Regions from separate parts of the Homo sapiens genome. Here regions 2, 3, 4, 5 and 6 are each linked to region 1. Evidence: fine-mapped expression QTL. A gene starts in region 1. Each other region holds a variant in brackets. All regions are shown on one strand. Distances are from middle to middle.

Region 1 (4,088 bases):
AATGAGACCATCCAGAGAAGATGCAGAGGACTCAGGCGATAATAACTATTGTCATTCTTGCTGTCGGTTATTCAGACCATGACCTTGCTTCTTATTTCCCTATGTACTGAAAAGCAACTCCTCCTCTTCTTTTATGTGCATGGCTGAAATTGTCATTTCAGTTCAGCTCTGGTGAATCAACCACGTAGGGGCTCAGATAAAGACCAGAACTCCTAAATAGGAAAGTAATTGTGAGGCCCGGGTTAAATTCGGACTGCCCCACTGTGCTCTCTCTTTAGCCTTGCTCTCACAACTTAGCTGCCACTAGACTTGACCTTTTGCCTCAGCAGGTCTTCATATCCCTGTGAATAATTCAGAAGCGTCACAATGAAAGCCTGACAACCGGAGTCCATTTTGCAGTATGGCTGTCTGAAGCAAGATAGACAAAACGTATTTCCTTCCCCTTCATCTTGAGGGGAGGAAACTGATCAGGACAAAGGTTGCTGTCCAATATGATGAAGCCCTCTGTGTGATGTATCACTTGTAAATACCATGATAGCATGAAAGGCTCATTAGCTGAAGGGGCTTTCAATTAGGGTCCTCCAGTTTTTAAGGACCTTTGGCAAGGCTGCTCTGACAAAGAGAAATCTAAGATGCTCAAGGACCTGCTACTGTTTTTCTGTAACTCTTTCCTCTTCTCCCTCACACATTTTTCCTGTATCACTTATCACAGCTTCTAAAATGGATAAGGGAGCTATATTATGCAGTATCAATCTCTCGCTTGACCATAAGCTGCTCAAGGGCAGGGGACCTGACTTATTAATCTTTGTATCCCCTGCACCTGGCACACATCTCCATCAACGTACATGGAACTGAGGCGGTTGAATTTACATCCCAGGTCACTGTGCCAGAGCTCAGAATGGGACTAGAGCTGAAGGCAAGAGAGGAATCATTTATTTCCCACTGCTGAGCTGAGTGCTGGCTTCCAAGGAAATTCCAGTCACCGGACAGGCAGCATCCTCCAGCCCCAGGGAAGGACTTAAGGGTACTCTATTGGTACCTTTAGTGAAAGTTCTTTCTCCTAGTTCTTAGAGGTAAGGAAAATGAAGCAACCTGTCCTGTATCCTGTTGGTTTACAACCCAGGGCTAGGAGAATGTACATTGGAAAGTGAATCCTTTTCATCCTCTGCTTAGCTGATCATACCGAGACAGACAATTTGAGTAGGACTACAGAGCTTGGTCCTAATTAAATACAAGGACATACTTTTTTATCTTCCTCCCTATCAAAAGGTTCAAGTCTCAGACTTAACTTTTTAGTTTACAAACAGAAATAAAGACAGGAAATAGTCTTTTAAAAACGCTCCGTGTATCCAAGCCAGGCACTTTGCTGATGCATTATATATATTTGCTCTAAGCCTGCCAAGACCAGTAGTAATGTAGCCATTTACAGTTGAGGAAACTGAGGCCCAAAGAGCTTAAACGGAAAAGCAGAGATTAGAGGTCACTCCCCTTTGGGTCCGCTCACTATACCACGAAGTTTCTGTCCTTTTCCTCCAACACGCTGGTGAGTCCGTGTGCGTGGGTGACTGTGTGTGTGTGGTTCCTTTTTTCCCTATAGAGCCCTCCTTCTTGTCCGTTTTCTTGATTCCACTTTTTGGAGACAAAGTCCAGTTCTTCTCCAAGGTCTCACCATCCGCTCGCCGTCTCCCTCTGACGTCCCAAGGACGGTCAGCCACTCCCCCGCTAAGTTCGGAGTCTCAGCCCTTGGCTCCGATTCTGGGCTCCGCCCCCACCCTCCGGGGACCCCCGCCTGGTCCCTGTCCCCTGCGCCCAGGCGCTCCAGCGGGACCACGGCCCGCGCCCGGGCCCCGCCTCCCCTACCTGAGGCCCTCATGGCCGGAGGCGTCGCAGCCTCCGCCCACCAGCGCGCCTGCCCTGCCATTGGCTCTGCGGGCTGCCCGTCTCCTTGCTCCGTCCCGGAGGCAGGTTTTGCAAGGAGAAGCCGCAGTACCCGCGGCTCGGGTGCAGCGCGGGAGCACAGTGGAGCGCAGATCGCGGACCCGAGCGGGCATGTCCCCGCGCGCGGGAGCCTCCGTTTGCGGCCGGGCCCGGGCGGCTGTGAACTTAGCAGCGGGCTCCTGCGGCCCCGTCACTGCCATGTAGTCGCTGGCGGGGCTCCCTGCAGCCCGGGAGCGGCAGTGCCAGTGAGCCTGAGCCCAGGAGCCCGCGTCTTCCCCGGGAGGCGCTGAGTGCGCGCCGCGCCCCCGCCGCTCGGGAGGCACTTTGGGCCAGACAGGGAAATGGGGGAGAAAGTTTCGGAGGCGCCAGAGCCGGTGCCCCGCGGCTGCAGTGGCCACGGCAGCCGGACTCCAGCCTCTGCGCTGGTCGCCGCGTCCTCTCCGGGTGCTTCCTCGGCCGAGTCCTCCTCGGGCTCAGAAACTCTGTCGGAGGAAGGGGAGCCCGGCGGCTTCTCCAGAGAGCATCAGCCGCCGCCGCCGCCGCCGTTGGGAGGCACCCTGGGCGCCCGGGCGCCCGCCGCGTGGGCTCCGGCAAGCGTGCTGCTGGAGCGCGGAGTCCTTGCGCTGCCGCCGCCGCTTCCCGGAGGAGCTGTGCCGCCCGCGCCCCGGGGCAGCAGCGCGTCCCAGGAGGAGCAGGACGAGGAGGTGGGCCTTTCCCCAGCTTGCCCACTCTGGGTTCCGGCAGCCGGGCGACCGTAGTTTCCCATCCTGCGCACAGGCAGTGGGCAGGAGAGCGCTGTGGCCTGGAGATAGGGAGGGACCCCAAGCGCTCTGCCCCGAGCACGGGACAACGATAGTTAGGAGCCCCCCTGTGGGTTATTGACTTCCCTGTGGCTGTTACCCCCGTGTGTGTGTCTCAGTGTGCTGCCTGATGGTGTGTTTTTAAAATGTCAGAGAAGCAAACTCCTTCGTGTTTGTATCTGACTTGGTTGATCTGTGAAAGGATGCGATCTGGACATCTGGCGTGTCCCCACAACTCACCTCTGATTCTCCAAAGTGGGCGTTGTTTCCCACCGAAGCGCTTGGGCCGAGGGGCAGGGAGTTGAGGGGGAGAAATGGTGCCTTGGGGGTAAGAGGCAGGAGTAGGGTGGGGGGCAGCGGTAGCCGCGGAGTTGCCTGCGGAGGTTTCAGTGGCGCCAGCCCCCTGGGATCGCCCGCGGGTGGTTTTGGCGCGTCCCCGCAGCGTCGGTCCTCTGGGAGAAGAGGACTCCCCGCGCTCCCTCGGTGGCGCTGGCGTGCGCGCCTGCAGCTCCCGTTCAGACTTGTTTCCAGCTTGTCCAGATGAACGCTTGTCACCAAACCGAGTACAGATCGTCTTACCTTTTGCGGGGCGGAGCGGGGTGGGGGATCTGTATCTGCCCAGTTTCCTGGAAGGATGTTCCTCCAGAACTTGTGGGTCGCTTCCTGACACACTGAGCATAGGACTCTGGTGTCCTTCTGGCTGCTCTGTCCGGCTTATTTTCTGCTTTTGGAGGACAGTTAAAGAAGTGTACAATTCTTCACGTCTCAGAGCCAGACTCAGTTTAAAAAAAAAAAAGATTGTTTGCTTTGGACGTTTCTTGTGGGGAAGTCATCTTGATCAGGCAGGGCCACAAATAAAACATCACCTTAACATAGACTTATTGTGAAATTAATTCCTGAGTGCCAGTGTTGTATTTTCCTCATCTTGGATGGGGTTAGCTTTAGTAAATAATTGCCTTTGTCCCTTAGAGTAAGCAATCAGAGGCCCCCAGCCTGGAAGCAAAAACTGGATGTGGCACAAGGTTGAGAGGAGGCGAGTCCTAGCTTGGCAGAGATGGAACAAGCCTTAGCTGCTTAGCTGGTTCTTGGCCAAGCCACTTGCAGTAACCATGACCCATTCCCTAATTCCCCTAAGCCCCCATTGCAAGGATCCTGGATAAGGGTCTGGAGGCCTGCTTTCTAGAACTGCCTCTGCTACTGAGTGGTGAGACCTTGGGTATATCATTTCACTCCTCTGAGGTTCAGTTCCATAATCTGTAAAAGGAGGAGCTTCAAGGTAAATTTCATTTTCACTCTCATACTCCTGTTTCGAATCAGGAATTTCAGATGAATCCATAGCTCCAAATCGAT
Region 2 (4,088 bases), 26 kb after region 1:
AGGTGGATGCTTGTGTTTTCTCTAGCACTTTCACAACAAAGCAATTATATTGTATTGCATGTAAATATTTGTGAGTGGGGAAAATATATAGAAGTCTACAATACTACTTCCCCTCCACATTAAAACCATATGAAGTTATGCCTACAAATTAAAATATTGTAAAAGCTCAATACAGTTTTAAATTTTTCAACAAAGTTATGTAGTACTTCTTTATTTGTAATAATAAAAAGTATCATTGTGTGAAATTAGTATGGGCACATTATCTCTAATACTTGCCGTTAATAATGGCATTGAACCCTAACTGATAGCCTTTAAAAAAAACAACAAAGCATGGCCTTTAGTAAAACAAAACAATATGTGACATTTCTGTAGAAATGCTGTAATAGAGAAAAATTTAGCTCTGTGAGCAGTAGTCTCATTTATGGGAATGGTAATTATCTGTAAGTTGAGACTTAACATTTTTGTAGATTTTATGAGAAAATATTTGCTAGTCCTTGTTTTTACATCTTTTTTTCGTCCTGCCTCTGTGTCTATCTCTCTTTTCTCCACCTCATATGGGGACAATTCTGTTTTTACAGGTCCTGATTTTTTTTTTTTAAATGTCTCACCAGAAGTGATAACTCATTTTGTTAGAATGGTAGGGAGCTCAAAAGTGGAGGATTGTGACTTCAGTTGTGGCTTAATCAGCCCAAGCAGGTGCATTCTAAGTAAAAGAGATACGGTTTTAATGCAACTGTCCCCCCTAATTCAGAGAAAGGGAGACAAGTATAGGAAATGACACAGCAGTTAAGTCAGAATTGTTTCTAAATAGATTGTTTTTTTTTTCCCTGAATTCTCTGAGCACCAGCAGCAGTGTCTTGTTAAAGTGAAGAGAGATATAAATGAAGAGGAGTTGAGGATGACTGTGTTAATTTTTTGTTCTGAGGGATCAGAAATACTTAAGAAAAATGAAGTCGGAGATTTACATAAATAGGTGGGAGCCTCAGTAGTGTCATGTTCATTTGAGAGTAGAATTTGATTCTGGGGACCTCAAATAACAGAAGATGATTATATTCAAAATGTCCAAGGCACTACTGTAAGGCAACTTAAATGGCATGTGCCTTAACAGGGTGGCTTTGTAGTGAGGTTCTGGAATTTTTCTCATTCTTTTGTCTCGCAGTGTGCTATTGTATGAGTAGCAGTGAGAAAATGTTTGGATAGCATGTCTAAGAACCAGAGCATGCAGAGAAAACAGGGCTTTTATTCTACTTTGCATCTTAGTTAATTTGGTTTTTAGAGAAGCACACTATTTTGACTTGAAAGGCATTAGCCATATCTTCTTATTTACTTGAGTGGTGGTTACAAGAGTATTCTATATTTATTTATTACACTTTGCTCTTATGTTTTAGGTATTTTTTGCATATTTCACAATAAAAATGGTTAAAAAAAGTCACTAGTGTATTCTAGACCTTTCAAGTCAACCATACCAATTTATTCATTCCTCCGTCTACCCAACAAATACTAATTGAGCACCTACTGTGCATCGGGTACTGTTACTGGCACTGGGAATACAGTAATGAACAAAGCAAGCAAAAGTCCCTGGTCTCATGGGGTTTATATTGCATGGAGGGGAGGCAGATAATATGTCAGGCAATGGGTTAGAGCAGGAGTTGACAGTCGTCTTCTATAGAGGGCCAAATAGTAAATACTTCAGGCTTTGTGGGCCAGATGGTTTTTGTCGCAACTACTCAACTCTGCCACTGTAGTGTGAGAGCAGCCATAGCCAATACGTCCATGAAAGGATATAGCTGTGTTCCAACAACACTGCTATTTACAGAATCATGCAGCGGGCCAGATTTGACCCACAGTCCTCCTTAGTTTGCAGACCTCTGTGTTACATGGTAGTGTACCCTAAGGAGAAAAAAAAAATGGAATATGGAGTGCTGGGGTGTGGGGTGAGGGATATTTATAGATTTTGACAGCATGGTCGAGGAAGATGTTTCCGTGAAAGTGACTTGTGTAAAGATTTGAACAAGATGATGTGTTTGGCCATGTGTCTATCTGGAGAGAAGGGGAAACAGCAAGTGCAAAGGCCCTGAGATGGAACATATCTGGAGAATTCGAAGAATGGTAAGAAGGCCAGAGTGGAGCAGAACAAGTGTGGGAGAGAGTTGTAGGAGATGAGATCAAAGGCTAGGAATGAAGTGTAAGGCCATGTCATGTGACCTTGTATGTCCTTGTAAGG[C/CT]TTTTTTTTTTTTTTTCTAACTTGGAAATCAGTTGCATAGTCACTGGAAGGTTTTAAGTAGAAGGGTGACAAGATCTAATTTTTAACAGGCTCACTGGCTTCTGTATGGATAATAGATTAAAGAGGCTTGGAGTGAAAACAGAGAATCAGTTAAGGGTTACTGCAGTAATCAGGTTAGAGGTGATGGTGCTTGGAGCAGGTTGACAATAGAGGTGGTAAGAAGCAAACAGGCTCAGGATGTGTATTGAACATAAACTTGACAGGGTTTGCTCACAGAGTGAAAATGGAAGATGATAACTGGAAAAATCAAAGAGGACTTCCAAGTTTTTGGCCAGGTGAACTCAAAGGGTAGAGTGCCATTTATGGAGTGGGGAAGATGTCAGACAACCAGCCTAATAACAACCTTGCGGCACAGAATCCCAGACCCAATAAAGCACCAGACAGAGATGTCAAGCTAACCAAGGTTATGCCATCTTCTGGGTTTGTGTGTGCCCTAATGGCCATAGGTGCCCTGTTCCTAAGGCTGCAGCTTGTGCTGTCCGTGGTGGGGTTTGCTCATAGCCTTCAGTCTGTTGCTAAGTTATGGACTTTGTGCTACTATGGGTCCCTGAGAGTCCTGAATTCCTATGGGACAGGTGAAGATGACCCAGATCCTTTGGGTGAATCCCTTTTGATCCATAAAGTTATCAAAAGAAACCCTGATATCCAGTGGGTCACCAGGGAAGCCCTCAAACACAGAGAGATGTGTGGGCTGACATCTGTAGCTACAAGGATTATGGCCTTATAAGAACCATGGTTCAAAAAACTAATACCAAGCCCTCTTAAATGCTTTTCAAAAAGTAGAAGAGGAAACATTCCCAGACTCATTTTATGAGGCCAGTGTCACCCTGATTCCAAAGCCAGACAAAGACACCACAAGAAAAGAAAACTACAGGCTATAATCCCTGATAAACATAGATGCAAAAATCCTCAATAAAGTACTAGCAAATATCATTCAGTAGCACATTTTAAGGATCATACATCATGACCAAGTGGGATTTATCCCTGGGATGCAAGGATGGTTCAATGTACATACAATATGATATGCCACATTCACAGCATAGAAGATAAAAACATCATTTCATCAGATGCAGAAAAAATATTTGACAAAAATTAACATTATTTTATGATTAAAAACTCTGAACCAAATAGGCATAAGAGGAACTTAGTAAAAGCCATATATGAAGGACCCACAACTAACGCTATAATCAATGGGCTAAAACTTAGTTTTTCCTCTAAGATTTGGAGCAAGGCAAGGATGCCATATGTCATCACTTCTCTTCGACATTGTACTGGAAGTCCTAGGCAGAGAAAACAGACAGGAAAAAGAAAAGGCATTCAAATTGGAAGGGAAGAGGCAAAATTATCTGTTTGCAGGTGTCATGATCATATATACATGGAAAATCCTAAAGACTTCACAAAAACTGTTAGAACTGATCAGTGAATTCAGTAAAGTAAGATACAAAAATCAACATACAAAAACAGTGGCATATCTGTACATCAACAATAAACTCTCTAAAAGGAAAATTAAGAGAATCTCATTTACATTAGCAAGAAAAGATAAAATACTTAGGAATTAAGGAGGTGAGAGACTTGTACATTTAATTATAAAATATTGATGAAGGAAATTTAAAACAAATGGAAAGATCTCATGTTCACAGATTGGAAGAATTAATATTGTTAAAATGTTTTTTTTTTTTTTTTTTTTTTTGAGATGGAGTCTTGCTTTGTCACCCAGGCTGGAGTGCAAGTGGCATGATCTCGGCTCACTGCAAGCTCTGCCTCCCGGTTTCATGCCATTCTCTTGCCTCAGCCTCCCCAGCAG
Region 3 (4,088 bases), 570 kb after region 1:
TTGGCCTCTGCCCAGCCTATCACCATTAAAGAATTTGATTTCCAATACAATGGTTTTGCTTCCAGAGGTTTACTTTGTATTATCTCTTAGTTAAGTTGTGTCTGCATATTTAGGGGTAGGTACTCAGAAGCTTTCAAGCAAAGAGCATCCTCCTCATATACCTAACAAGTAAATGAATGTATTTTTAATGCATTTTATATTTTTCCTATTTTTCCAACTCTTCTTAAGTGTTTGGAATTGAGAGAGGCTCCATTGTCTACTATTAAATACTCTTCCTTTACATGTCATAAGAAGGTTTCTAATAGGAAAGTGGTGTTCTGCTCTTTAATAGGATCTGCTGTTGTATCCCTGTCCCTCACACGGAGTTATTGAGCTGAGCACAATGGTATTTTGGGGAGGCAGCAATAGTTCTGAAAGAAGACTGAACAATTTTTTCCTGTTTTTCTGTAGGAGGAGATCTCTTTTCAAAAAGCTAGCCAAGCAGCCTTCTCCTTTACTCCACACCAGCCGAAGTTTCTCCTGCTTGAACAGATCCCTGTCATCGGGTGAGAGCCTCCCAGGTTCCCCCACTCATAGCTTGTCTCCCCGGTCTCCAACACCAAGCTACCGCTCCACCCCTGACTTCCCATCTGGTGAGTGAGTCTCCTGGTCTAAACAGCAGAGGGGAGGGGAGGTAAAGTCATGTGAGGTCCCCAAAAAACATGAAGCTTGTTCCAGCTGAAAGAAAGCAGGTTGAAGGTGTAAATTATAAAGACAGATTTATAGAGAGGTCATAAGATGTGGCTATTCTGACCAAACAAATAAGTCAAGAAGTATGGGGCTAAACCTTGGCCTGGAGAGGTTTATCTGAAAAGTGTTTATTCCACTAGCTAAATGCTGAGACAATTTGCTGATCTTACCTGGCCTTACCTAATACAGTCTGGGCTACAACTGTGAAAAAAAGGGGAAAATGACCATGGATGCTCACAGCCTTCTGTTTTCCATCCACAGGTACTAATTCCTCCCAGAGCAGCTCCCCTAGTTCTAGTGCCCCCAATTCCCCAGCAGGGTCCGGGCACATCCGGCCCAGCACTCTCCACGGTCTTGCACCCAAACTCGGCGGGCAGCGGTACCGGTCCGGAAGGCGAAAGTCCGCCGGCAACATCCCACTGTCCCCGCTGGCCCGGACGCCCTCTCCAACCCCGCAACCCACCTCCCCGCAGCGGTCACCATCCCCTCTTCTGGGACACTCACTGGGCAATTCCAAGATCGCGCAAGCCTTTCCCAGCAAGATGCACTCCCCGCCCACCATCGTCAGACACATCGTGAGGCCCAAGAGTGCGGAGCCCCCCAGGTCCCCGCTGCTCAAGCGCGTGCAGTCCGAGGAGAAGCTGTCGCCCTCTTACGGCAGTGACAAGAAGCACCTGTGCTCCCGCAAGCACAGCCTGGAGGTGACCCAAGAGGAGGTGCAGCGGGAGCAGTCCCAGCGGGAGGCGCCGCTGCAGAGCCTGGATGAGAACGTGTGCGACGTGCCGCCGCTCAGCCGCGCCCGGCC[A/C]GTGGAGCAAGGCTGCCTGAAACGCCCAGTCTCCCGGAAGGTGGGCCGCCAGGAGTCTGTGGACGACCTGGACCGCGACAAGCTGAAGGCCAAGGTGGTGGTGAAGAAAGCAGACGGCTTCCCAGAGAAACAGGAATCCCACCAGAAATCCCATGGACCCGGGAGTGATTTGGAAAACTTTGCTCTGTTTAAGCTGGAAGAGAGAGAGAAGAAAGTCTATCCGAAGGCTGTGGAAAGGTCAAGTACTTTTGAAAACAAAGCGTCTATGCAGGAGGCGCCACCGCTGGGCAGCCTGCTGAAGGATGCTCTTCACAAGCAGGCCAGCGTGCGCGCCAGCGAGGGTGCGATGTCGGATGGCCGGGTGCCTGCGGAGCACCGCCAGGGTGGCGGGGACTTCAGACGGGCCCCCGCTCCTGGCACCCTCCAGGATGGTCTCTGCCACTCCCTCGACAGGGGCATCTCTGGGAAGGGGGAAGGCACGGAGAAGTCCTCCCAGGCCAAGGAGCTTCTCCGATGTGAAAAGTTAGACAGCAAGCTGGCCAACATCGATTACCTCCGAAAGAAAATGTCACTTGAGGACAAAGAGGACAACCTCTGCCCTGTGCTGAAGCCCAAGATGACAGCTGGCTCCCACGAATGCCTGCCAGGGAACCCAGTCCGACCCACGGGTGGGCAGCAGGAGCCCCCGCCGGCTTCTGAGAGCCGAGCTTTTGTCAGCAGCACCCATGCAGCTCAGATGAGTGCCGTCTCTTTTGTTCCCCTCAAGGCCTTAACAGGCCGGGTGGACAGTGGAACGGAGAAGCCTGGCTTGGTTGCTCCTGAGTCCCCTGTTAGGAAGAGCCCCTCCGAGTATAAGCTGGAAGGTAGGTCTGTCTCATGCCTGAAGCCGATCGAGGGCACTCTGGACATTGCTCTCCTGTCCGGACCTCAGGCCTCCAAGACAGAACTGCCTTCCCCAGAGTCTGCACAGAGCCCCAGCCCAAGTGGTGACGTGAGGGCCTCTGTGCCACCAGTTCTCCCCAGCAGCAGTGGGAAAAAGAACGATACCACCAGTGCAAGAGAGCTTTCTCCTTCCAGCTTAAAGATGAATAAATCCTACCTGCTGGAGCCTTGGTTCCTGCCCCCCAGCCGAGGTCTCCAGAATTCACCAGCAGTTTCCCTGCCTGACCCAGAGTTCAAGAGGGACAGGAAAGGTCCCCATCCTACTGCCAGGAGCCCTGGAACAGTCATGGAAAGCAATCCCCAACAGAGAGAGGGCAGCTCCCCTAAACACCAAGACCACACCACTGACCCCAAGCTTCTGACCTGCCTGGGGCAGAACCTCCACAGCCCTGACCTGGCCAGGCCACGCTGCCCGCTCCCACCTGAAGCTTCCCCCTCAAGGGAGAAGCCAGGCCTGAGGGAATCGTCTGAAAGAGGCCCTCCCACAGCCAGAAGCGAGCGCTCTGCTGCGAGGGCTGACACATGCAGAGAGCCCTCCATGGAACTGTGCTTTCCAGAAACTGCGAAAACCAGTGACAACTCCAAAAATCTCCTCTCTGTGGGAAGGACCCACCCAGATTTCTATACACAGACCCAGGCCATGGAGAAAGCATGGGCGCCGGGTGGGAAAACGAACCACAAAGATGGCCCAGGTGAGGCGAGGCCCCCGCCCAGAGACAACTCCTCTCTGCACTCAGCTGGAATTCCCTGTGAGAAGGAGCTGGGCAAGGTGAGGCGTGGCGTGGAACCCAAGCCCGAAGCGCTTCTTGCCAGGCGGTCTCTGCAGCCACCTGGAATTGAGAGTGAGAAGAGTGAAAAGCTCTCCAGTTTCCCATCTTTGCAGAAAGATGGTGCCAAGGAACCTGAAAGGAAGGAGCAGCCTCTACAAAGGCATCCCAGCAGCATCCCTCCGCCCCCTCTGACGGCCAAAGACCTGTCCAGCCCGGCTGCCAGGCAGCATTGCAGTTCCCCAAGCCACGCTTCTGGCAGAGAGCCGGGGGCCAAGCCCAGCACTGCAGAGCCCAGCTCGAGCCCCCAGGACCCTCCCAAGCCTGTTGCTGCGCACAGTGAAAGCAGCAGCCACAAGCCCCGGCCTGGCCCTGACCCGGGCCCTCCAAAGACTAAGCACCCCGACCGGTCCCTCTCCTCTCAGAAACCAAGTGTCGGGGCCACAAAGGGCAAAGAGCCTGCCACTCAGTCCCTCGGTGGCTCTAGCAGAGAGGGGAAGGGCCACAGTAAGAGTGGGCCGGATGTGTTTCCTGCTACCCCAGGCTCCCAGAACAAAGCCAGCGATGGGATTGGCCAGGGAGAAGGTGGGCCCTCTGTCCCACTGCACACTGACAGGGCTCCTCTAGACGCCAAGCCACAACCCACCAGTGGTGGGCGGCCCCTGGAGGTGCTGGAGAAGCCTGTGCATTTGCCAAGGCCGGGACACCCAGGGCCTAGTGAGCCAGCGGACCAGAAACTGTCCGCTGTTGGTGAAAAGCAAACCCTGTCTCCAAAGCACCCCAAACCATCCACTGTGAAAGATTGCCCCACCCTGTGCAAACAGACAGACAACAGACAGACAGAC
Region 4 (4,088 bases), 440 kb after region 1:
ACCTACTGAAATGTCATCAAACTGCTAGCATGTTTCTTTTAGTTAAGTATATTGAGGGACCTTACCATTCTGTGTATTTCATCTCTAAGAAAAAGGAAATTAGGCTGGAGAGGTTTGAAAGAAATTGAGCAGGAAATTGGGGTTGCAAAATTCTATGGCAAGGTGATGGTGTGTTTTGATTGTTGGGTTTTGTTTGTTTATTTTTTGATAAGAACAAAAAGTGTTTGCTACTTAGAAAACCTTTATTGGCAGCATGATTTCTGTGTCCATGAAGAATGAAAGTGAGGTGGATGGAATAGTAGGAGTTTTAGAAGGAAAGTACATTTCCTCATGTGAAAAAGGTAGGAGAAAGGAAAATATAAATTCATTGCTGTTGACTTTATAATTTGATATTAACAACATTATTGAAATTGCTGTGGACTTGAAGTTTGTCCTGTTTACGAGTTTGCACAAAGTTAATCCTAATTATTCTGAAACTAAGACTTATATATTATTTTTATACATTTGAATTTCTCTAAATTATATACTTAAATTTTGTTTAATGAAATTTTTTCAATTAAATAAAAATGTATGTTTAAGGTTGAAATTTACTAGTATTTCACATGATTCCTTGTTAAGTGTTATATATATTTAGGAGCATCTAGGAAATTGTAAAACCAAATTTCAAATTAAATGTGTATTTTTATTATCTAAATATTTTGTATACATATGGGTCATTCACATCCTTATAGGTTTTTATTTAACAAATCATTTCTCAGGGCAATACAACATAAAGGCTCTATAGTTAATTTAGTAATAGCATGGTGTGATACCTGTATTCCGTATCTCTTTTGTTTTATAGTGTTACAAGCAATATTTGATGGTTTAGGGTTGTTTTCTTTTTAAACTTTGGCTTGAACCAGGTTAGCACTGAATGAGAGCTCTGAGATGACCATCTGATGTTTATTAGATAGCTGTGGTAAAATGACATAATCATCATTTTGGTTTTGAAGAGGTAACCATAGCACTGGTGGCAAAAATAGATCATCTGAGTGACATTTTAACTCAGAAAATAAATACCTTTTCATTTCTGTACATCACCATTCCAGAGCAGGCCTGGGGCAAATTGGTCAGAGTCCTAAGGGGTGATATTTAAAATAAGATCTGTTTTGTATTAGTAATGAGGTTGTGGTTTTAAGCCCTTCCATTCTGTTGTGTAGTTTCAAGGGAGTTTAGTTTAAAACATTAAAACCATACAAACATTGTATATTTGGAACACCTAACCTCTTCTAAGTGTTCTGTACCTCAGCACTTTTTTTATCTTGGGTGTTTGTGTCACTCTCTTACAACGTCTACTTTTATAAAGCCTTGGGTATCTCAAACGCTATGTTTTTATTTAGTATTTTAGTGCAATAGAACATTGTGCTAAAGAGGCCAAGGTCATGGGTGTTGATTCTATGCCAATTAACTGTTATGGTGAAATTTTTTTCCTGTAGCTTTGGCTGGTATTTCAGAAGTTGCTAGAATTTGACTACTTTTGTTTAAAGTGTGGATAATGCTGCCTAACTCATTAACTGTCCTGTAAAAAGTAAAATTGATGTCTATTGGGGATAACACTTCCACATAGGATATTTTTTTCCTATGTGAAAAAAGCATTTACTTTCATCTGTGGATGATCTCTGACTAGACTAAAATGTATGCGTTTATTAAATAGATTAATATCAGTTCCTGGTGGGTGGAGATT[A/G]TCAGTCTTTAAATTGCTACTCTTTGCTGCTTTCCTCTGCATAGATACAGAGAATCTGTCAGCTCCCTGGCTAGTCCAGCAGAAAGCCCTGGGCATTTCCCAGAGTTGATGGCAGAGGAGGGTCGTCTCTTGTCGCCTTTTTAGCCTGATTTATTGCCCTTGAATTTTTTAATAAGGACATATTTTAAGTTCTGTCTAGGGACTGAGGGCTTGGATCATTCATGCAGTGAACTTTGAATAAGTTGGAAAGATTGGCTGGGCCCTGTTATCATAATGGATGGTGACTATTTGACATTTACAGTGGTATGCTCCATTTGCACTAAAATAAATGAATTTGTATTTAGACATGATTTGCAAAATTTTTCCCTATCACACTTAAAGTAGAGGTTATTTGCATTCAAAGTTAAACACTGAAAAACTGCGTACAGACTTAGTGAAGATTTGTAAAATACATGTTAATTGGCATAACACCATTAAACCTGATTGTGCTGATCTGTTAGCTGGAGAAAGAGCAGGAATCATCTTGTTCCCATATCCCTACAATCTAAATTGTTAGAGTTTCTAAAGATGGGGGACTTCTCTGAAGTGAATATTCCTGTCAGGCCTGTTGACCTTACTGCCTAGTGACCTATTCATAGGTCAGGATGGCAGTTCTCCCTGCTGGGTCAGTTTTTATTCCACCTTCTTTCGTGAGAGAACTAATTTGTACAGCTCTTACAGGTGGAGAACTAGATCACTGGTGTCCTTTACTGCCTCTGATATATGTGGAAATGAATCAGTGGAAAATTCAGTTACTCATCGTGACCTACTTCTGTCACTTGCGTTGAAGGGGTGCTTATTTGTCAAAAGCAATCTGCCCCCCTTCCAAAAACTCTTGCTCCATGGCTGCTTTAACTCATTTAATCTATAGATTCTTTCAGAATGTTTGCAGTTGCCTAAATCTTTCTGTGAATTATCCTGCTGTACCTGTAATCCATTTTAGATTAAGCCTCTGGAGGCCAATGAAAAAATCTGACTTTGTTACCTCTCAGCACAGCCTGACCCACAATCTCTGCTTTCTAATGAAGATTCCAGGATCTTTAGGAGAAACTGTAAAATGGAAACTTCCACTAATTTGAGAAGGGGGAGATTTAAGAAAGGTTGGGTTTTATTATGACTAAACTTCCCCACCCACGTTTTTTGCAAAATTTATCTTTTCTCATTTTTATTGGCTTATTCTTTCAAAATATTCATTTATTCAGCAAGGTTTAATTAAGCATGCCTCTGTGCCAGGTATTGCATTAGGGTCACAGAAAGAACAAGATACATGCTTGTCTGCAGTGCCTAGTAGGAGAGCTATAAGGTATCATGTTAGAATAAATAAGACCGGTTTTAAACGCCATTTTTATTTTGGGGGAGGGCAGAATTATTTTACATCAAGAACAAAATAAGGGTTACTTCTTACCTGACTTGATGATTTTTCAGCAGCATAGTCTGGTCTGTCTGGATCAGTGGTTTACCTATTTCATATGGTCACATGTGTCAGTATGTACAATGATTATTTACCATAGACTTTTAGGTAAATGATGAGAGGATTATTGAGAACAACAGAATTCAAAACCCTTGAAAAAGAAAATGATGTGTATCTATATTTTAAGCAGAAATACACAAACACACTTATAGTAACTACAAATAACATCTAGTAGCTCAGACCTATTGCCATTTATTTCATGTTCAATATTGTACAGACAACAAACTATGAAAAGTGATGTACCATATTTATATGTATACAGGTGAATTTCAATCCAACACTAAGATAATTACTTTATGTTGTAGAATCATATATAAATACTTTTTGCCCTGTTCTAACCATGCTTACGAAGACTTTCAGATTAAGAATGAATGGTCATACTTAAAATAAATAGAAACTAGTATTTGATGAGGAGAATGGCATTCCTTTGGAAACCCATCTCATTCTTGGCAGTTAATTAGTTCTTACTGTGAACATCTAACCCTTAAAAAAAAAAAAGAAAGAAAAACACTCTTGCTGACTTGATAACACTTTTTAAAAAGTGGCAGCTATTAACATTAAAATAACAGTGAAATTTTTCTCTCAGCTGAGAGTTGTAAGGATTACTTTTTTGGGTTTTCATTTCTCTGTGTGTGTGTGTGTGTGTGTGTGTGTGTGGCTTTTTTTTTTTCAGATTGTTACAGATACTTCTCCTTTTTGAAGAAACTATACAGGCAAAAAAAAAAGCAGTCAAGCTGAGCTAGTTTGGCATAGTATATTGCAACATAGGCATAGGCAGGATTTATATTCTAAAAAATATTCTGTGTTTTTTGGCCAAGGAACAGAAACTCCTGGTCAAAGTCATAAATGAAGCAG
Region 5 (4,088 bases), 610 kb after region 1:
TATTTTGCAAATGTTAACCCTGCCACCTAGTGACCACTTTCTGAATGTCACTTGAAGATTACCACCTGAAAATTCGTGTTGACCTCAGTCTTGCCGCCCTTCCAGACTTTCTCCTGCTTGGAGGCCCCATGTGGCACGGTGCTGCTGATGTGTCATAACTGTTTTGGGGCTGCGTTAGCGATCCCTGGAGGATATGGACTGAGCTGTATCTCCCTTTGTTTTCCCACAACAGTAAGGTGCTTGGAGATTAAGGAGCACGTCTCAGGAGCATCCTATGTGCCGAGGAGATGGCTTCTGTCTCCCCAAGGGTTAGAGTTCCCAATTTCTCTTGTGTGACTCAATTGTAGCACCTGAATCTTCTGTTTGTTAATATGTGTCCCTCCTCCATTGAACTGCGAAATCTGTGAGGTCAGGGACAATGTCTTTCTTATGTTTGAGCCCCATCCCCTAGTTTGGTATCTGTCTGACAACTGTCAGGGGAATGAATGGCCGGATGGCATGGCTATAAACTCCCAGTCTGCCCGGCATTCTTGCCATAGTTCTCCAGATGGGGCATCTTCCCTTTTCCACTCTCAGGATGAACTGTGTCATCTTTACGTTTCTTCACCCCTTAGCCTCCCCCTTCTTCCATACATGTTCAGCACATGCTTAGTATATGACCTTGCCTTGAATTTTGGAAATAGAAAGCTGAAGTTAGGAATTCCTTAATTTACACCCACCAAACCTTCAAACCTACCTCTCCATGTGCCAGCACATGCACCTGGATGCCCTGCCACACCTTCCAAGTGTGCTCTGAATCCCCGGAACCACTCATTGGGATCACCTGGGGAGATTTGACAATGATTGATGCCTGGGTTCCAAAGCAAAAAGTCTGATGTCTCACGTCTGTAATCCCAGCACTTTGGGAGGCCGAGGCAGGCGGATCACGAGGTCAGGAGATCGAGACCATCCTGGCTAACACGGTGAAACTCCGTCTCTACCACAAATACAAAAAAAAGAATTAGCTGGGTGTGGTGGCGGGCACCTGTAGTCCCAGCTACTCGGGAGGCTGAGGCAGGAGAATGGCGTGAACCTGGGAGGCGGAGCTTGCAGTGAGCCGAGATCATACCACTGAACTCCAGCCTGGGCGACAGAGCAAGACTCTGTCTCCAAGAAAAAAAAAAAAGTCTGATGTTATTTGTCTTGGGTTTAGGCTGGGTGTGGGGATTTTTAAAAAATGTCCCCAGGGGATCCTAAACTACAGCCAGGATTGAGACCTGCTCTCTGAATCCTCTGTTTCTGCCTTCTCAGGCTTCAGCAGGTAGCCCCACTCTCACCTGCATTTCCAACCATTTCTGTTTTTGGGTCATTTTCCAAATCATATGGAATTGCCCTAAACTCTGCCATATGAAAATAAGAATTAAAAAAAGCTTTCCTGGATCCAATATTCATAGCAACTATCTGCTTTCTTTATGCACTTTCCAAGCCAAACTTCAAGAATAAGTCACCCACACAGGCTGTTTCTGCTTCCTCCTCATCGTTTTCATAAAATGTACTCCAGATTGGATTCTGTTCCAGGGATGATCACCCTGTCATTCAAAACGACTCACCTCCCTTGGCCTCCAAGACCCCATGTTCTCCTAGTTTCTTTCTCAGGCTACCTTTCCACCTGATCTCCCAATGTTGAGAGTTCCTCAGGACACGTGCTTGGCTGTCTTTCTTTCTTACTTCACTTCCCACAGCTTTTCAGTCCCTGGGACTTTGGAACTTCAAGCCTGTGCTCAGACCATTCTGTCAGTCTCATACCTGCATATCCAAATCCCTATTCGGCCTTCCTTTCCAGAGGCGTGTGCTAGACATCTCAGATTTCATGTTCCAAATGGAACTTTAAAAAGTTAATTAATTAATT[A/AATTT]ATTTATTTTTTGAGACGGAGTCTCGCTTTGTCGCCCAGGCTGGAGTGCAGTGGCGCGATCTCGGCTCACTGCAAGCTCCGCCTCCCGGGTTCACGCCATTCTTCTGCCTCAGCCTCCCGAGTAGCTGGGACTACAGGCACCCGCTACCACGCCTGGCTAATTTTTTTTGTACTTTTAGTAGAGACGGGGTTTCACCATGTTGGCCAGGATGGTCTCTATCCCTGACCTTGTGATCCACCCGCCTTGGCTTCCCAAAGTGCTGGGTTTACAGGCGTGAGCCACCACGTCCGGCCTAAAAAATTTATTTTAATTTATTATTATTTTTTTGAGACAGAGTCTCACTCTGTCACCCAGGCTGGAGTGTGGTGGCACGATCTTGGCTTACTGCAACCTCCACCTCCTGGGTTCAAGCGATTCTCCTGCCTTAGCCTCATGAGTAGCAGGGATTACAGGTGCACACCACCACACCCAGCTAATTTTTGTATTTTTAGGTAGAGATGAGGTTTTGCCATGTTGGCCAGGCAGGTCTTGAACTCCTCACCTCAGGTAATCCACCTGCCTCGGCCTCCCAAAGTGCTGGGATTACAGGCGTGAGCCACCATGCCTGTCCCCAGATGGAATCTTGATACACCACCCCCCCACACTTAGACTCGTCTTGTATAATAGTTCCTATTGTATTAATTTCCTATGGCTTCTGTAATAAATTACTAAAAATGAGCTGACTTAACCCAGCACACATTTATTTTCTCATAGTCCTGGAGGCCAGAAATCTAAAATCAATTCCTCTGGGTTGAAATCAAGGTGTTGGCAGGGCTGTACTCCCTCTGGAGCCTTAGGGGTGAATGTGTTCCTTGTCTCTTACTGCTCCTGTTAGCTGCTGGCATTCTTTGCTGTATTAGTCAGGATTCTCCCAAGAAACAGAACCAATAGGATCAAACTGTCTCTCTAGAGAAGACCAATGCTCCAGCTCATGCAGTCACGTAAGAGAAATTCCCTCTTACTTGGCCTTTTTCTTCAACTCCAATCTTCAATTGATTGAATGAGGCCAGCCCACTTTGGCGAGGATAATATACTTTACTCAGTCTGTTCATTTAAATGTTAATCTCAACCAGAAACACCTTCACAGTCACATTAAAAATAATGTTTGGTCAAATGTCTGGGCACTCCATGGCCCAGTCAAGTTGACACATAAAATTAATTGTCACACTTGGCTTGTGGTAGCATCACTCCAATCTTGGAGGCCAGCATCTTCAATTCTCTTTCTGCCCTGTCTTTACATAGCCTTCTCCTCTGTGTGTGTGTGTGTGTTTTAATCTCCTTCTGCCTCTTTTTTATAAGGATACAAGCGACTGCATTTAGGTTCCACCTAGATAATCCAAGATCATCTCCCCATCTCAAGATCCTCAATTACATCTACAAAGACTATTTTTTTTTCCAAATAAGAGAATATTTACAGGTCCCAGGGATTAAGACATGAATTTCCTCGGAGGACCATTATTCAGCCTATTACATCAATTCATACAACAGCAATTTTATCCGCCCAATGTCTTAAGCCAGAAATTTGGAACTCACATTTGTCATAAAATTCTCCTCAACACCATTTAATCCAGCCATAACTCCTGTATTTTCTTTTAAAAAGTCTTTTTTTTTTCAAGATCACTAGGTTCTTATAAATAAATCTTAATTCTCCTCAGTAATTTCCCTCTCCTCTGCCACCAACCTAACCCAAAACATAATATCTTTCCCATTCTTTTTTTTCTTTTCTTTTCTTTTTTTTTTTTTTTGAGACAGAGTCTTGCTCTGTCACCCAGGCTGGACTGCGGTGGCCCGATCTTGGCTCACTGCAACCTCCACCTTCTGGGTTCAAGCGATTCTCTGCCTCACCCTCCCGAGTAGCTGGGATTACAGGTGCCCGCCACCACACCCGGCTAATTATTGTATTTTTAGTAGAGACAGAGTTTCACCATCTTGGCCAGGCTGGTCTTGAACTCCTGACCTCGTGATCCACCTGCCTCGGCCTCCCAAAGTGCTGGGATTACAGGCTTGAGCCACTGCACCTGGCCCCCATTCTTATTTTAATCGTTCATTTATGTCCATTGTAATTTTCTCTTTATTTGTGATGATGTTAAGTGTCTGTCTCTAGTCACTAGATTATTGGCATTGTGAAGGCAGGACCATACATGTTTTGTTCATCATTAT
Region 6 (4,088 bases), 570 kb after region 1:
AGCATCGTGTTTGGTTTGGGATGTAGAGTCTATACCTGGCTGCTGATTGCGTCGTTTACTACAGCTTTTTTTAAATAAGATTTTTGCTTTACCATTTATCATAATGTAGTAATGAAGCAAAATGGTCAAAACTGGGTGTGTGTGAACAGAGATACACCCATATTCGTGTATATACACATCCACCTACATGTTTTGGTCTGTGGTTTAAGAGACTATTTCAAGGTTCCATTTTTATAAGCTAAAACATTCTAAGTTAAGATGGAAGAAAGCCCTAAACACAGTAGATTCTGAGTTTTTATGTGTATTTTAACCAGAGTTTCTGATAGTACTGTATCTGGCTACCTATATTTCCAGATCTAAAGCAAGAACTACTCTAAGTACTGCATTTGGAATCCTCCTCCATTAGGAATGGCCAGGACAAGTGGAGCTAGCCATTTTCATTACACGGCCATCCCAATGGACACTGGATCCCTGGTCCAACTGTCTAAAAGGCCAGTTGTTCCTTTCTGTGGATGTGGATGTCTGGCCTTCACCTGAGGTAGAGCGGGGACTATAAACACACATCAACTTTCTTTCTGTTTGCTTTCTTTTCCTTCTTTTCAAACTCTTAAACTCAGGCCTTTATGCTGTGAGTGACTAGTCCAAGAAGCACACATTTTGTAGTAGTCCTGCACCAGCCCTGCTCTTGAATAAAAAGGAAAATTACTGGCTGCACCCAAATCTTCTAGTACTTGAGTAATAAGCATCAGGCATTGGAAGAGGTTTTAAATTTGCTTTTTTGAGGAAAAGAACTGGGGGTGGATTTTGGCATCGTAGCATATCGATTAAAGAATAATCAGGACATCAGATACATTTTAATACATAGCTGGGGCCTTATGTTGTAGATGAAGCTTGCTGTTTTTAGCAAGTTCCTGGGTTTCACATTCATTTCTGCTGCATCTAGTAGCTCCACACATTTCATAACCTGATCTCTTTATTTGTATGCAAAAAATACTGTCTTAATACAGAGCAGCATTTTTGTAACAAAGAGACTCGCTGGAGCTATTTGGTGCTTGAATGTGACCATCCTTTTTACTTTTGCTAAGCCTTATTTAAATTTTGTATACCGTGGAATATGTAGAATTTGTCAAATCATTTTAGTGCTGAAGGTTTTTGATTTCTTGTTTTTGTTTCTGTTGTTGCAGTTTCTTTGGTGGCTTGTTTTGTATTGTAAGATGGCACTTGCTGATATAAATACTAAGGCACTAAGAGAAAATACAGATAAGTATTTATAAGTTGCTTGGGAACCATAGCAGAATTTTTTGTTTGGTTTTGTAAGAGAAAAAAAATTACCAATAAATAACTGATCTAGCACCCAAACTCTCTTGGGGGATGTCTTAGTATCTTCACGCTATAAAATTGTTCATCTAAGCACAGCATCATCTTATGGCCTTATGGATTGTAAATCTTCTAGTGAGGCTATAAACTCCACTCTGAAAACAAAGGCATAACTTAACCGACTGCTCAGTTGTCCTTCGTTGTAAAATGAATTGGCTTTGGGAAAAAGGAAAAAAACAAACAAAAAAAGAAAAAGAAAAAAGCCTCCTCCTTGCCCCTAATTTTTTTTTCCCATATGGTTTTAGCCATTCCCCATCACTATATTGTGAAGCTGTAAAAATATATATATATACTTTACAAGAGTTTACTAATGGATTTCAAAACTGGTCTCAACGTTTATAATACATATCTGTGTTTGGCAGTTGTCATAACCCAATCCTACATTCAGCCATCGGGACAAGTCTGTCGGGGAGGTAGTTCATGGTTTACAAGCCTTTGCTTTTTAACTGTCCAATTTCCTTTAAAGCACAACTAGCTATTTGTTTACAAATGATATTTTTATGTATATTTTGTATAGTGTATCATCATTTTTGCCAAATATGTTTTTCATTATAAATGAGTAAAGAGTACTTAAGGTTGCATTCATGTATTACATGTTTGTTGTTGTAAACCTCTCCAATCAGCTGGTAGAAATTCTCCTCATTGTGTTCTATTTGGTCAGTCTCTGTGTGATTGTAGGATGTGCTCCTTGGTAGTACTCCCAGCTGTAGATTTACCAGCTTAAAAGTTTGTTAGGATCTGTGCAATAAAGTGTTTGCAGTCTTATTTTCTCTAAGAAATTCCTTATGGACGTCATAATTGTTGTATATTGAACAAAATATTTATACTTATGCAGTTGCATAACATTGAAATAAAAATTTAGCATGAAAAGATAATGACTC[G/A]TAAGTTTTTTTCTAATATACTCATATGCATTCCACCTCCAAAAAATATTACTGATTATTACTCTGGTATTATGGAAAGGATAGGTTTTTACAGATTACTTTTTGCTGAGTGGAACAGTTTGCCTTTTTTTCTTAAAAATGTACACAAATATTCTTCAACATTAAGTCCTTTAGCTGGGCATAGTGGTGCTCACCTGTAGTCCTAGCTATTTGGGAGTCTTAAGGCAGGAAGATGGCTTCAGCTAGGAATTGGAGACCAACCTGGGCAACATAGACCCTATCTCTACAAAAACTTGAAAAGTTAGCTGGGTGTGGTGGTGTACGCCTATTGTCCCAACTACTCAGGAGGCTGAGGTAGGAGAATTACTTAAACCCATAAGTTCAAGGCTGCAGTGAACAAGCTATAATTGTGCCATTGCATTCCAGCCTGGGCAACAGAGTGAGACCCTATCTCCAAAAAAAAGAAAAAAAAAAAAGATTAAGTCCTCTTTTAACTTCTTCCTATTTTTTTCTACCAACCTTTTTCCTTGCCTGCAGAACTTACCAACTTCTACACTCACACTCACCATCTTCCCACACTCAGGGGGTCTTGATTCTCCTTTCTCTGTGACACCACCACCACCTCCTCTCATTCTCTCACGAACTTGCTCCATCAATTACCATAGTCTGCCTCAGCATTCTCTTTTTCCTCCCCAACTGTCTCTTTCCTTTCAGAAAACCCTTTCTTTACCTGGCCTTTTCCCTCTGTCCCTTCTCAGGTGACATCCTACAAGAGGAGTCTGCACTTAGTATTTTTGGGTCTTCACCCCTTTGAAACCTGGCTCTGTCACCCATGCCATCAACATCGCTCTGGTAGAGGTCACCAGTGACACAGCTGACTCTAAAGCCCTCTTGTCAAGACATCACTTCAGTAGACCATCTTGAGAACCGGTCTGTCCCTGACAGCCCTCTCTCCTAGTTGTCTTCAACCTGTTCTTTTTCTCTCTTTAGAGAATTTCTTCCTTGTCCTCTTGTCCCTTTAAATACTGGTGTTTCCTGGGTTCGTCCTTGGTCCCTGAGCATTTCAACTTGGCTCAGGCACCTCACACTCAAAATGTCCAAAAATATGCTTATTTTGGTGCCCCTTCTTTCAAAGCTCACTGTATTCCCCATCTTTTCTCCGAGTCAGATCCTAGATTTCTGCCTAAACTCTTCTTTCTTGCCTTACATCTTAAAAAAAAAAAAAAAAAAAAAAAAGCTTCACTGATTTCACAATATACTCTTCTGTGCAATCCATGTCCCGTCACTATTGTGCTACTGGCAGCCTTAGTTTGGTCTCTATCATAGTCTCTCTCCAGATGACCTCAACAGCCTCCTAACTGGTTTTCTTGCCTTCGCTCTTACCCCTTCTAGTCTGTTCTTCACAATGTCCCTAGAGTGATGTTGCTCAAGTGTAAGCACACCATGTTACTACCCTGCTTTAAACCTTTAAGTAGCACCCATATTCTTCGGGTAAAGGCCAGTTCCTTAAATGTATCCTTACCCTAGATAACTCCAGCTCAGCATGTGTGCTGGACTCAGACATCTGGAGGAAGCCTTTTGGAAAGGCCTGGACCGACCTGTGGACTGTCTTTGCTTCACTGTGTATCTGCCTCATGGCACTCACTGCGTTATTTTGGAGTTACCTTTCTACATGTGTATCTTCTTTGCTAGACTTCAAGCTCCCTGGTTCTCTGTCTTGTTTTTTACTTCTAGGACAAAGCACATCGGAGACATCAATAAGTATTTGCTGATATGGTTAGGCTTTGTGTCTCCACCCAAATTTCCTCTTAAATTGTAACCCCCATAATT

Alleles and levels. Alleles are on the strand shown, and positions count from the first base shown. SD is a standard deviation of normalised expression in the study named. Not every link is listed here.
As copies of C replace CT in region 2, the expression in monocytes after interferon gamma of the gene that starts at base 2,017 in region 1 goes down (moderate effect, 0.50 SD a copy in Fairfax 2014).

What was found. PIP is the estimated chance that this variant, and not a neighbour inherited with it, causes the effect.
Region 2: its variant is fine-mapped to the expression of MAST4 in monocytes after interferon gamma (Fairfax 2014, PIP 0.95).
Region 3: its variant is fine-mapped to the expression of MAST4 in monocytes (Quach 2016, PIP 0.95).
Region 4: its variant is fine-mapped to the expression of MAST4 in whole blood (INTERVAL, PIP above 0.99).
Region 5: its variant is fine-mapped to the expression of MAST4 in pancreas (GTEx, PIP 0.98).
Region 6: its variant is fine-mapped to the expression of MAST4 in monocytes after LPS (Quach 2016, PIP 0.95).

What each region holds. Positions count from the first base shown.
Region 1 is chr5:66,594,377-66,598,464 of GRCh38, forward strand. MAST4 (microtubule associated serine/threonine kinase family member 4) reads left to right here and starts at 2,017. Exons shown (of 29, transcript NM_001164664.2): 1 at 2,017-2,642. The coding sequence starts at 2,280. RefSeq lists silencers at 1,653-1,852, 2,463-2,602, 2,613-2,762.
Region 2 is chr5:66,620,196-66,624,283 of GRCh38, forward strand. All of the region lies in intron 1 of MAST4 (microtubule associated serine/threonine kinase family member 4), which reads left to right. Among named protein-coding and RNA genes, the nearest start is that of MAST4, 26 kb to the left of the region's middle. The variant C/CT (reference allele first, on the strand shown) is at 2,225.
Region 3 is chr5:67,162,157-67,166,244 of GRCh38, forward strand. It overlaps MAST4 (microtubule associated serine/threonine kinase family member 4), which reads left to right. Exons shown (of 29, transcript NM_001164664.2): 28 at 451-632; 29 at 991-4,088. Among named protein-coding and RNA genes, the nearest start is that of CD180, 33 kb to the right of the region's middle. The variant A/C (reference allele first, on the strand shown) is at 1,535.
Region 4 is chr5:67,029,456-67,033,543 of GRCh38, forward strand. All of the region lies in intron 4 of MAST4 (microtubule associated serine/threonine kinase family member 4), which reads left to right. Among named protein-coding and RNA genes, the nearest start is that of MAST4-AS1, 27 kb to the left of the region's middle. The variant A/G (reference allele first, on the strand shown) is at 1,724.
Region 5 is chr5:67,209,346-67,213,433 of GRCh38, forward strand. No RefSeq gene overlaps it. Among named protein-coding and RNA genes, the nearest start is that of CD180, 15 kb to the left of the region's middle. The variant A/AATTT (reference allele first, on the strand shown) is at 1,889.
Region 6 is chr5:67,167,347-67,171,434 of GRCh38, forward strand. MAST4 (microtubule associated serine/threonine kinase family member 4) reads left to right here. Exons shown (of 29, transcript NM_001164664.2): 29 at 1-2,247. Among named protein-coding and RNA genes, the nearest start is that of CD180, 27 kb to the right of the region's middle. The variant G/A (reference allele first, on the strand shown) is at 2,259.